3 separate regions of the Homo sapiens genome follow, and regions 2 and 3 are each reported to be linked to region 1. Evidence: microRNA targets listed by miRTarBase, many of them from high-throughput screens and not tested one by one. Region 1 holds a microRNA gene; each other region holds the end of a gene's coding sequence.

The links. The annotated mature microRNA hsa-miR-6132 reads AGCAGGGCUGGGGAUUGCA and lies in region 1 at 1,894-1,912, shown strand. An mRNA with a match to its seed (bases 2 to 7 or 8) in the 3' UTR can be bound and repressed. Matches are read on the target gene's strand: a 7mer-m8 pairs with bases 2 to 8, a 7mer-A1 pairs with bases 2 to 7 and ends in A, and an 8mer does both.
Region 2: miRTarBase lists OTUB1 as a target of hsa-miR-6132. Seed matches in the 3' UTR shown: 7mer-m8 at 2,721-2,727 and 7mer-A1 at 1,956-1,962.
Region 3: miRTarBase lists TNFAIP1 as a target of hsa-miR-6132. Seed matches in the 3' UTR shown: 7mer-m8 at 452-458 and 7mer-A1 at 986-992.

What each region holds. Positions count from the first base shown.
Region 1 is chr7:117,018,338-117,021,485 of GRCh38, forward strand. It overlaps MIR6132 (microRNA 6132), which reads left to right and starts at 1,874; the gene lies at 1,874-1,982. All of the region lies in intron 1 of ST7 (suppression of tumorigenicity 7), which reads left to right. RefSeq lists an enhancer at 913-2,112.
Region 2 is chr11:63,997,295-64,000,294 of GRCh38, reverse strand. OTUB1 (OTU deubiquitinase, ubiquitin aldehyde binding 1) reads right to left here. Exons shown (of 7, transcript NM_017670.3): 7 at 1,883-2,946. The coding sequence ends at 2,749. It overlaps MACROD1 (mono-ADP ribosylhydrolase 1), which reads left to right. Exons shown (of 11, transcript NM_014067.4): 5 at 1-68; 6 at 532-653; 7 at 735-765; 8 at 891-964; 9 at 1,259-1,340; 10 at 1,423-1,457; 11 at 1,608-1,737. The coding sequence ends at 1,427. Among named protein-coding and RNA genes, the nearest start is that of OTUB1, 12 kb to the right of the region's middle. RefSeq lists enhancers at 1-680, 1,018-1,107, 681-1,618, 2,555-3,000 and a silencer at 648-887.
Region 3 is chr17:28,344,271-28,347,270 of GRCh38, forward strand. TNFAIP1 (TNF alpha induced protein 1) reads left to right here. Exons shown (of 7, transcript NM_021137.5): 7 at 94-2,739. The coding sequence ends at 330. POLDIP2 (DNA polymerase delta interacting protein 2) reads right to left here. Exons shown (of 11, transcript NM_015584.5): 11 at 2,363-3,000. Among named protein-coding and RNA genes, the nearest start is that of TNFAIP1, 10 kb to the left of the region's middle. RefSeq lists enhancers at 1-421, 925-1,428.

The sequences.
Region 1 (3,148 bases):
CCACTTCCTACAGTTACATTTCAACATCATTATTGATATTCCCCCTTGGTTGTCGATGTGACTGTTTTTGAAGGTATACATTTTTATTAATTCCTGCAATTTTCTGTGATTTTTTTTCTTTCTCTGATGACCTTTCTCTTTTAACGATTTTTTTTCTTCATGTTTTGAGTTGGTTTCTATTTTCCCTTCATTTCAGTTAAATCCTTAAATATAATTTTGCTGATTATTTATTCATTGTTCAAGAAAGAGGCATTATCGTAGTGTGCTTAAGAGCATTGCTTTGGATCCAGACTCCTGAGTTTGAAGCCCAGTATATCATTCACCACCTGTGTGACCTCGACAAAGTATTTAACCATCTGTCAAATGTGGATAAAAGTGGTATATACCTTGTAGGGTTATTATGAAGATTAAATGGGTTTATACATGTAAAGGACCCAGGATAGTGCCTGGCACATAGTAAACACTCAGTAAATATTAGCTATTGTTATTCTTTCCCGCAACAGATGATTTGTTCTTTATCTTATTTAGCATCATCAAATGTTCTTCTTAATGGCTCAGCATTTTTAGTAAGCTAAAGATCAAGTTACCCTGAATAAACTGTGGTACATTCATACAGTGGAATCTTATGCAGTCTTTAAAAGGATGAGGTAGATCCTACATATACTGACCAGAAAAAGTACTAATGATATTTTTAGATGTTAAAGTAATATGTGGTTCCACTTTCATAGCAGAATTTAATATTTAAAAACTGTATTGAGATCAAGACATGTCTTTGTGAACACAAGAAATTAATTAGAAAAGGCATATACCTTGGATGAATGGGTGGAGAGGAGACTTGAACTATTGAACTTTCTACTATATATGATTTTAAAAGTTACGTATATATGTATATATATTTACTTTTTGTGCATTTCAGTATTTTAAAAACATAACAAAACTCTTTTTTTGGCTTGTGTTGGATAGCTAATGAAAGTTCATATGCTTCTAGTACTTTTTCTTTAAAAACAGATTTATAAGAATATGGTAACACAGGAAGACATTTTTTGTTCCAGTGAGTCAAGAGATAAAATATTTTCAATTATTTCTTTGTGTGGGTAGATCAAAAAGAAATGGGTTGGTCACAAATGCTTACTCATACAGAGGTATACACAGGTGTGTGCACACAGCCTTAAAATGACTGAGTTGCTCTGGAAAATGACAGAAATTCATGTAAGGCACGATGAAGAAATAGGAGAAATACATGTATGTAAATATATTCCTAGAGCAGCGTTTTTCACATTTGAACAATAGTTGCAAAATAGCTAGTAATGGAATTGCCTGCATTTGAGTACTCACTGTGTGCCAAGCAGTGTTCTAAGTACTTAAGATTACTATTTTACTGTTACATTTGTATGTATTTATGTGCCTAGAATATATGTGTAATAGTATACATATTTTCACATACTTGTGATTGAGTGTACAATCCTTGATCTGTCAATCTACCATAAGCTTTGAGAAGATAACAATGAACTCTTCTGTAATTACTTCTAAAGACAGATAATGTTTCTCATTTCTGATATTCTTAATTCCCTTGAAAAGTTCTTTCTATATGCTGCGCAAAACCAAGAAGACTGATATGCATGATGTCTTTGTGGTTAATTGCTATAAAGCCAATATTTAAATTTCTTTGAGTCCTCTTTTACTGCCTGGTATCATGGGATGAAGAGCTGCGCAGGAGGGGAGTGTATACGTGGCTCTCGGTCTTGTGCATTTTGTGACAAAGGAATTCCCCTTTCAATCACGCTGCTCTCCTGGAGCCCCTGGAGCCTCTGGCTCAAGCAGCGCAGTCGGTCTGTGCAGTGTCCCTGACGTCATCCAGCGTATGCATAAGCCCTGCTATTGTCTTACTGCTACAGCAGGGCTGGGGATTGCAGTATCCGCTGTTGCTGCTGCTCCCAGTCCTGCCCCTGCTGCTACCTAGTCCAGCCTCACCGCATCCCAGAAGAGGCACGTCGGCCTTCATTTGCCTAGTGGATTTTCAAAAGCAGCTCTTCGGTTTTTGGTGCTGTTAAGAGACCTTGCATTTCAATCACACCGGGAGAAAACTGAAGCTCGTAACAGGAGAATCTGGCAGCTGGACACAGCTTGGACTGCATTGTCTGGCTTCATGACCCCTGCTGTGTAGCCGGCTCATCTCTTCACTCTCACATGTACACTCTCCTCGCTTTTCTTTCTTTTTTTTTTCCCTTTTCTTTCTTCTAATTTTTAAAAAGCAGCCTCTGGAGCCAGCCATGTTTGGCACTGAATCTTCATGTAAGTAAATGGATCCCACTTCTCTGCTATTTAGAAATCTGCTTGCTGTCATGGTTTCATTGGCTTAGAGTTCATATCACTTTGCCTTAGGTCATTAACAACCTTTGTATTTTGGCTCTAATTACAAAGGAATTGGTCTCAGGGAAGGAACTCCCCTTAACTGGGTTATTCATCCTTAAGGCCAGGGATGTCAATGTGTCAAAACCAGGCCTGTAAGAGGGAGGTAGGAAAACCAGAATCCATACAGCCACCCTAGAATGTGTTAATTGATGGGATCAGGCCTGTCACTGATCTATTGTTGTAGGCTCCGTAATGGTGCTTAAACCTTAAAATAGATACTGGGAGGATCTGAGATGATAGTGTTTATTAGAAAGGAAAGAAAGGCTTACATTTTTTCATCTAAAGAGATAAATAGTTATCATTATATACTCTTCCATATTTTCACAAAAACATAGACATTATAGGTAGATTCAGAATGAGTAAGAAATCGCTTTATTTTTGAGGATGGATTTTTTTTTTTCCCACAGTGGCTTCAATTTTGATATGCTGGCTAGCATCACAGTCCAGCAGGATCATATCTTTTTAAAAACTTATACAATGAAATTGCTTTGGTGCAGAGAAGGCCCTGCACAATGGGCTAGGCAGGACAGCAGTTGTAGACAGCTACAATGGATATTTTAAAAATTACAACCAAACTATGTGAGGATTATTTAATGTTGATATAGAAATATAACGTCAATGCAGTTGTACAGGCTCTGCAGAATATTTTGTCATTGTCTATTAGCAAAAATGACAGTTAAGAATTTCTAAGAGATAAGAATTTCTAAAGAGACTTTCAACCTGCTGGCTAGAGCAT
Region 2 (3,000 bases), not on the chromosome of region 1:
CCGGACCCTGCAGAGCTGTAAGACTGGCAAGGCCAAGATCACCGGCGGCTATCGGCTCCCGGCCAAGTGTGAGTCCCCGACGCGCCCCCAGCTGTGGGGCGCAGACAGGGCGCCCGTGTGTCACTGGGACATCAGGGGTGCGGCCCCCACAGGAGTGCTGGGGAACTCCTCAGGGGGCCCTTCTTAACCTTAAGGGCCAAGACCCGGCCCCCACCCCGCACACCCCAGGAAGCACATGGGGGAGACCGTGCGTGGAGGCTGAGGATGGAGCTGGGGGGCAACGCCTTCGCGCCCACACTCGCGCTCGGGTCTCAGCCGGGCCCATACAGATGTGGGGAGGGGGCGCGGGGCTCTGTGCGCGTGCGGATTCGGGCTCGAGGGGGCCCACAGGGGTGGGGGCCTTCGCGGAGGAGGCTCAGCGCTTGGGGGGAAAGGTGTTTCCTGCCCCCTTCTGCCCAGGCCGGCAGGGGGAAGCGAGGGAGCTGAGGACCGCGTAGACCCCCGCCGGTCTGACCCCGTCGCCCCCCGTAGACGTCATCCACACAGTGGGGCCCATCGCCTACGGGGAGCCCAGCGCCAGTCAGGCTGCCGAGCTCCGCAGCTGCTACCTGAGCAGTCTGGACCTGCTGCTGGAGCACCGGCTCCGCTCGGTGGTGAGGGACGGCCCGCGGGGGAGGGCGGGAGGCGGGGCGCAGTGACAATGTTCCAACCCCCTCTCACCCCTCCCCGCCCAGGCGTTCCCCTGCATCTCCACCGGCGTGTTTGGTGAGTCTGGAAGAAAGGCAAGGACCAGGAGTGGGCGGTGGACCCAGACGCCGGGAGGGGCCGGGGCGGACAGGGGAGTGGGCGGGGCCAGAGCCTAGGACTCACTCCCGCCCCACCCGCCTCAGGCTACCCCTGTGAGGCGGCCGCCGAGATCGTGCTGGCCACGCTGCGAGAGTGGCTGGAGCAGCACAAGGACAAGGTGAGTCCTGGGCCCGGGCGAGGGTGGGGTCCGCATCCCGGCCAGAGTGACCAGCCCCCATCATCGCCCAGGGAGTCAGGGTGCAGAGCGCAGGGCCAGGCCCGCCCCTTCCTTCCCTGTTTCTCCTGCGCAAGGGCGCCTGGCGGTGGCGAGATGGGGGTGATGGCACACAGCCGTGAGCCTCCGTGAAGGGCGCAGGGCCAGGCAGGTGAAAGCCTGCACCAGGGCAGGCAGTCACAGGATCCTGGGGCCAGGCGTGGCAGCTCGGCCCAGGCTGAGCAGCCCCTGGCGCAGGTGGACCGGCTGATCATCTGCGTGTTCCTCGAGAAGGACGAGGACATCTACCGGAGCCGGCTCCCCCACTACTTCCCCGTGGGTACGTGCCCCGCGCCGCCCCACGGCCCGCCCCTGCCCCGGTCCACCCTGGGGGCGGGCTCTCACTGTCCTCTGCCTTCCAGCCTGAGGCTCCCGCAGCCCACCCTGACCGGGACTGGTAAGCAGGGCCTCGCCCCGTGCGGCGGCCCCGGCCCTAGACTAACCCGCCCACTAACCCCCGCTCACCCCCAAGCAGGGCGGGAAACCACGGGGCAGCCTGGGAGGTCGGGGACGCCCATAGACACCTCTGACTCTGCTCTGCCCTCAGACCCGCCTTCGGGACCCCGCTCCCAGCTCTGAGAGGTCGCCAAAGCCTGCAGCCTGGCCTGGGCCTGGCCACCCCTTCTTTCCCTCCGCGCCCCGCCCCCGAGGAGCCTAATAAAGATCTCGTTGTGGCAGCTCCTACTGTCTGAGCTCTGACTGGGGGGAAGGAAGGCGGCCCAGGTGTTGGATGGAGCCCCTGGCCAGATGCTTTCACTGAAAGGGGCTGGCAAGAGCTCTCGGTGAGCCAGGCGGGCAGAGGCACAGGCGGACGGCAGAGGCGGCAGCAGCAGTTCACATTTATTGAGGGCCTGCCCCCAAGGAGCTCACAGCCTGGGGGCTGAGACCCCGAATGTGCAGGGGGCGGGGAAGAAAAGAGGTGAAGGCAAAAAGGCAGGCAATGCAGAGACACCGTGGCCCAAGCAGAGGGGGTGCAAGGCAGGCACAGGCAGGGGGCCTGGGGCGGATGGGGAGGTGGAGAACCGGCAGCCCTGCCTAGACCTGAGGACTGTAGACCCCACACGTTTGAAGGCTGCCCTCCCCCACCAGGATGGCACTGCCCGGGCACCCTGTGGGAGGCCCAGCTCCTCCACCTGCCCTGAGCCGGGTCCAGCCTCACAAAGGCCCCTCCACCCAGGACTCCCAACCATGCAGACTCCCGGTGGAGGGCAGGAAGCTGGGGTCTGGGGCCCAGCCGGGACGTGGAGGTGGGGCCTATGAGGGAGCAGATGAAGTGTGGGTGGCCCTGGGACCCTGGGCAAGTCCCTAAGGAACTTCCAGGATCCCATAGAAGCCCCTGAGCCAGCTAAGAAGGGAAGGAAGCAGAACCCAACGAAGCAGGAGGGGCCTCCAAGAGGCCTGGCCCCTCAAACCTGCTCCTGTTGGGGAAGCTCAGGAGTAGATAGGTGAAAAGCAGGGGGACCCACCTGGGGGGAGGGGGCAGCAGACAGAGCAGCCAGGCGGGCAGCAGAGCAGGGACACGCACACACGGCTCACCACCAGCACCCCCTTTAATAAAACATGGGGGGGGGTCATGTGACAGGAAGAAGGGGGTGAAATAGGACCATTTACAACCACAGAAAAACCTCTGTACATGTCTAGCGCCTGGCAGAGGGGGGCAGCAGGGCAGCAGCGGGCTGGAGCCAGCCCTATTTGTAGAGGATATCGTAGTGTCCAGGCCGGTAGAGAAGGTAGACCTTGGGCTCGGAGCCCTCAGGGAAGATGTGCGGATTGGTGGTGCCGCCCTCGCCGCGGTCCATGTACTCCACCTGGATGGACACGCTGAGGGCCTGGGCCAGCGCAATGATGTGGATGTGGTCGCTCTCCTTGCACATGGGCTCCACCTCCTGTGGCACAGGTGCCGGTCAGGCCCTGGTCTCCGCACCCCGCCCCAGGCCCTG
Region 3 (3,000 bases), not on the chromosome of region 1:
GAGGCCTTATGGAGCCTCAGGGCCAGCCGCTCTGACGCATGGCTTCCTCTTGAAGATGAAACCTTGCTCCACCTTCTTCCTCCCTAACCCCAGGTGGAATTCCCAGAGGCCCGAATCTATGAGGAGACACTCAACGTCCTACTCTATGAGACTCCCCGCGTCCCCGACAACTCCTTGTTGGAGGCCACAAGCCGTAGCCGCAGCCAGGCTTCCCCCAGTGAAGATGAGGAGACCTTTGAACTGCGGGACCGTGTCCGCCGCATCCACGTCAAGCGCTACAGCACTTACGATGACCGGCAGCTCGGCCACCAGTCTACCCATCGCGACTGACCAGACCCTCAGGGAGTCAGGGCACGGGAGGCCCTATCTCCCATCCTGTGGAACCCGCCCCATTGGCCACCCCATGCTGCTGCTGCCTGGGTCTCTGCTCTAGCACCCAGAGGCATGACAGGCCCTGCTCAGAGGTCAGAGGGTCTGGGCAGAGGAGGGACCACATTCCCCTGCCTTGCCCCTGAGCACTTCTGGAGACTGCGTCCTGTCCTATCTGCTCACCATCACCCTTCCTGCCCGACGGAGCTGCTTCTGCTCCCTGGGGCATATGGACTGACCCACCTCCTGCTGAGAACCTTCCCCTAGGCCCTGTGCAGAAGGCTACTGCCCCTTAGGCCTCAGCTGGGGGAAAGGCAGTTCTGGTGCTGTAGAGGCCCTGGTGCAGAAAGTGGGACGTCTTTTTTCCTAAGGTGTTTAAGCACAGGCTTGATAAGTTTGGTTTTTAAAAAATAATCTAGGAAATGAATAATTCTAAATCTAGTAATGAGGAAACTGAGCATTTCTTTTGCCCTCCAGGGTGCCAAGACCCTACATATGACAGAACCCTTGGCCCTTCTCCATGCCTGTGGGATCTGTTTCTTTAAAGCACTTTGTACTGTTATTCAGGAGGTTGATAATCTCCTTGACCCATGTCTTTCTACCCTAATCCCCACTTCCCTGCAGAATCAATCTGAGGGAGGGGATAAAGAGGAAGCAATAAAAAAAAAACATCCGACAGAGCAGCTCTGGCTTTGCAGCCTGGCCAGCAGCTCAGAGTGCACCGAGGAGGGAAGGATGGCTAAGCTGGGACCGGCAGTCCTCACAGGGTGCCTGTGAGAAAGGACATTTTACCCCCACATCATAGTCACATCACTGACTCCTAGGTCTAGCACGACTGCTCTTTGTGATTCTCTTGAGTACCCTTGGCTTCCAGCCATGCTGTCCTCACATACGGTAAAGCCAAAGAGCTGTCACATGGGCCAGAAACATGAGCCACGGCAGGAAGACCGTGGAGCCCGTGGGCACTGCATGGTGTTGGCTGGCATGCCCATCAGCTGAGGACAGCAAACTCCCAGCAGCCCCTACAGAGGTGGCACATGCTTGGCCACACATCTACTCCCTGCCCACACCATCTATGCTCTTGGTTGGTGCTGGCTGGGATGGCGGTTCTGCCCAGTGGTGTCTCTGAGCGCGGGATGACAGGAGCAACCGAAGCACCCTGAAGGCCTTCACTCCTTGTTGGGTAACTCAGCCATGGAGATGCCAAGCACTAGCCAGGAGGTGAGTTCCTCTTTAGGGCTTTGGTTTTCATTCCTTTTTGTTTGGCTTGGCCAAACCAGAATTCAGCTTATCTGAATTATTTTCCAAAGGAATGCTGTCAGGGAGGGACTGTTCTGCCAGCCTAACAAAGCAACGTAGCCACGTATAGTACCCACTTTCTGCTCTTTGGAGAGAACACAGGTTATCAAGTTCATCTCTCTTGACTACTCTTATGATAGCTGATGCCACAGAGCCTATGGGCAAATGCCAGACCCAGGGTTAGACACAAGGACCTGAAGTGACATGACGGCGGGACAGGGGAAATGTGACTTTCTAATTAGGCATTTTATGTTAGTCACAGTCTTGAATGTATAAACAGCACTAAGACTCTCAGGTCAGGTACCTTGGTGATCAGCTACTAGTTCTTCCAGCCCTCATTGAGGTAACAAGATAAAGACAAATCCACTTCTTTGGCCAAATTCAGGCTTTGGCTTTATGACTTTCCCACAGAGACTGGAATGCGTCAGCCTGAGACCACTGGCCTATTTTCTCAGCTGCCCTCTTGAGGTCCTTTAACACTCAAATTCCCAGCTCCCCACTGAGGTGTTGTGATGCTTGCCTTTTGACCTCCCCATCCCCTTTAGTCCCTGCTTACTACTTTGACATTCACATCCTCAGTGTCTCAGTCTTTTTTGCCGAGAAAGCACAGTAGTCTGGGACTGGGCATTTATCTTCTCTGACTGAAAATCTCTCCTTGGTCTTAAGGAAAATACTAACATTGAACTCACTGACATGATCTTAGCTTCTTTAATCAGACTTTGTGACTTAAAAGTTTGGGGGTTTTCTTTGAAAGTTTCCAGCCCTATTCAGAAAGCAACTCTTGGCTGTGTGCATTTTTCAACTCCAAGCAGCCCAGGGGTAAGTAAACAAAGTATGGATGAAGGTCAGATTTTCTTGTCAGTTTCTGAGAAACCTGGCAGCCTGCTGTTAACAACACAGGCCAGTATTGGGTTTTATTGAATTTGGTATGTGACCAAGGTCGGCCTAAAGGATGGCGCAGGTCCTGGGCAGGAAAGAATTTTTCCTTTATCACATAACTGTAATATTTGGTTGCTCAGCATAAGTGATGGAAGCAAACACTAATTTCTAATAAAATTGTGTTAAACTCAATGGTACAGAGCCATGTTTACAGTGAGCAGGCCTTGACCAGCTTGCGGCCATGGGCTGAGTTCCTGTGCTTCTGTTTATCATCTGACCTTGTGTTCTAGCCAGGTCGTAAGCGCGACTGTACTGTTGCCCTGCAACCCCAGCTCCCCCTGGAGGACTAAGGACAAGAATAACAAGGGCTGGAACTGTGATTTAATATTAATTCAAGAAAACTACCTCTAACAATCACTGCAGTGGCGGAGGAAAAGAAATCCTAAGAATTGG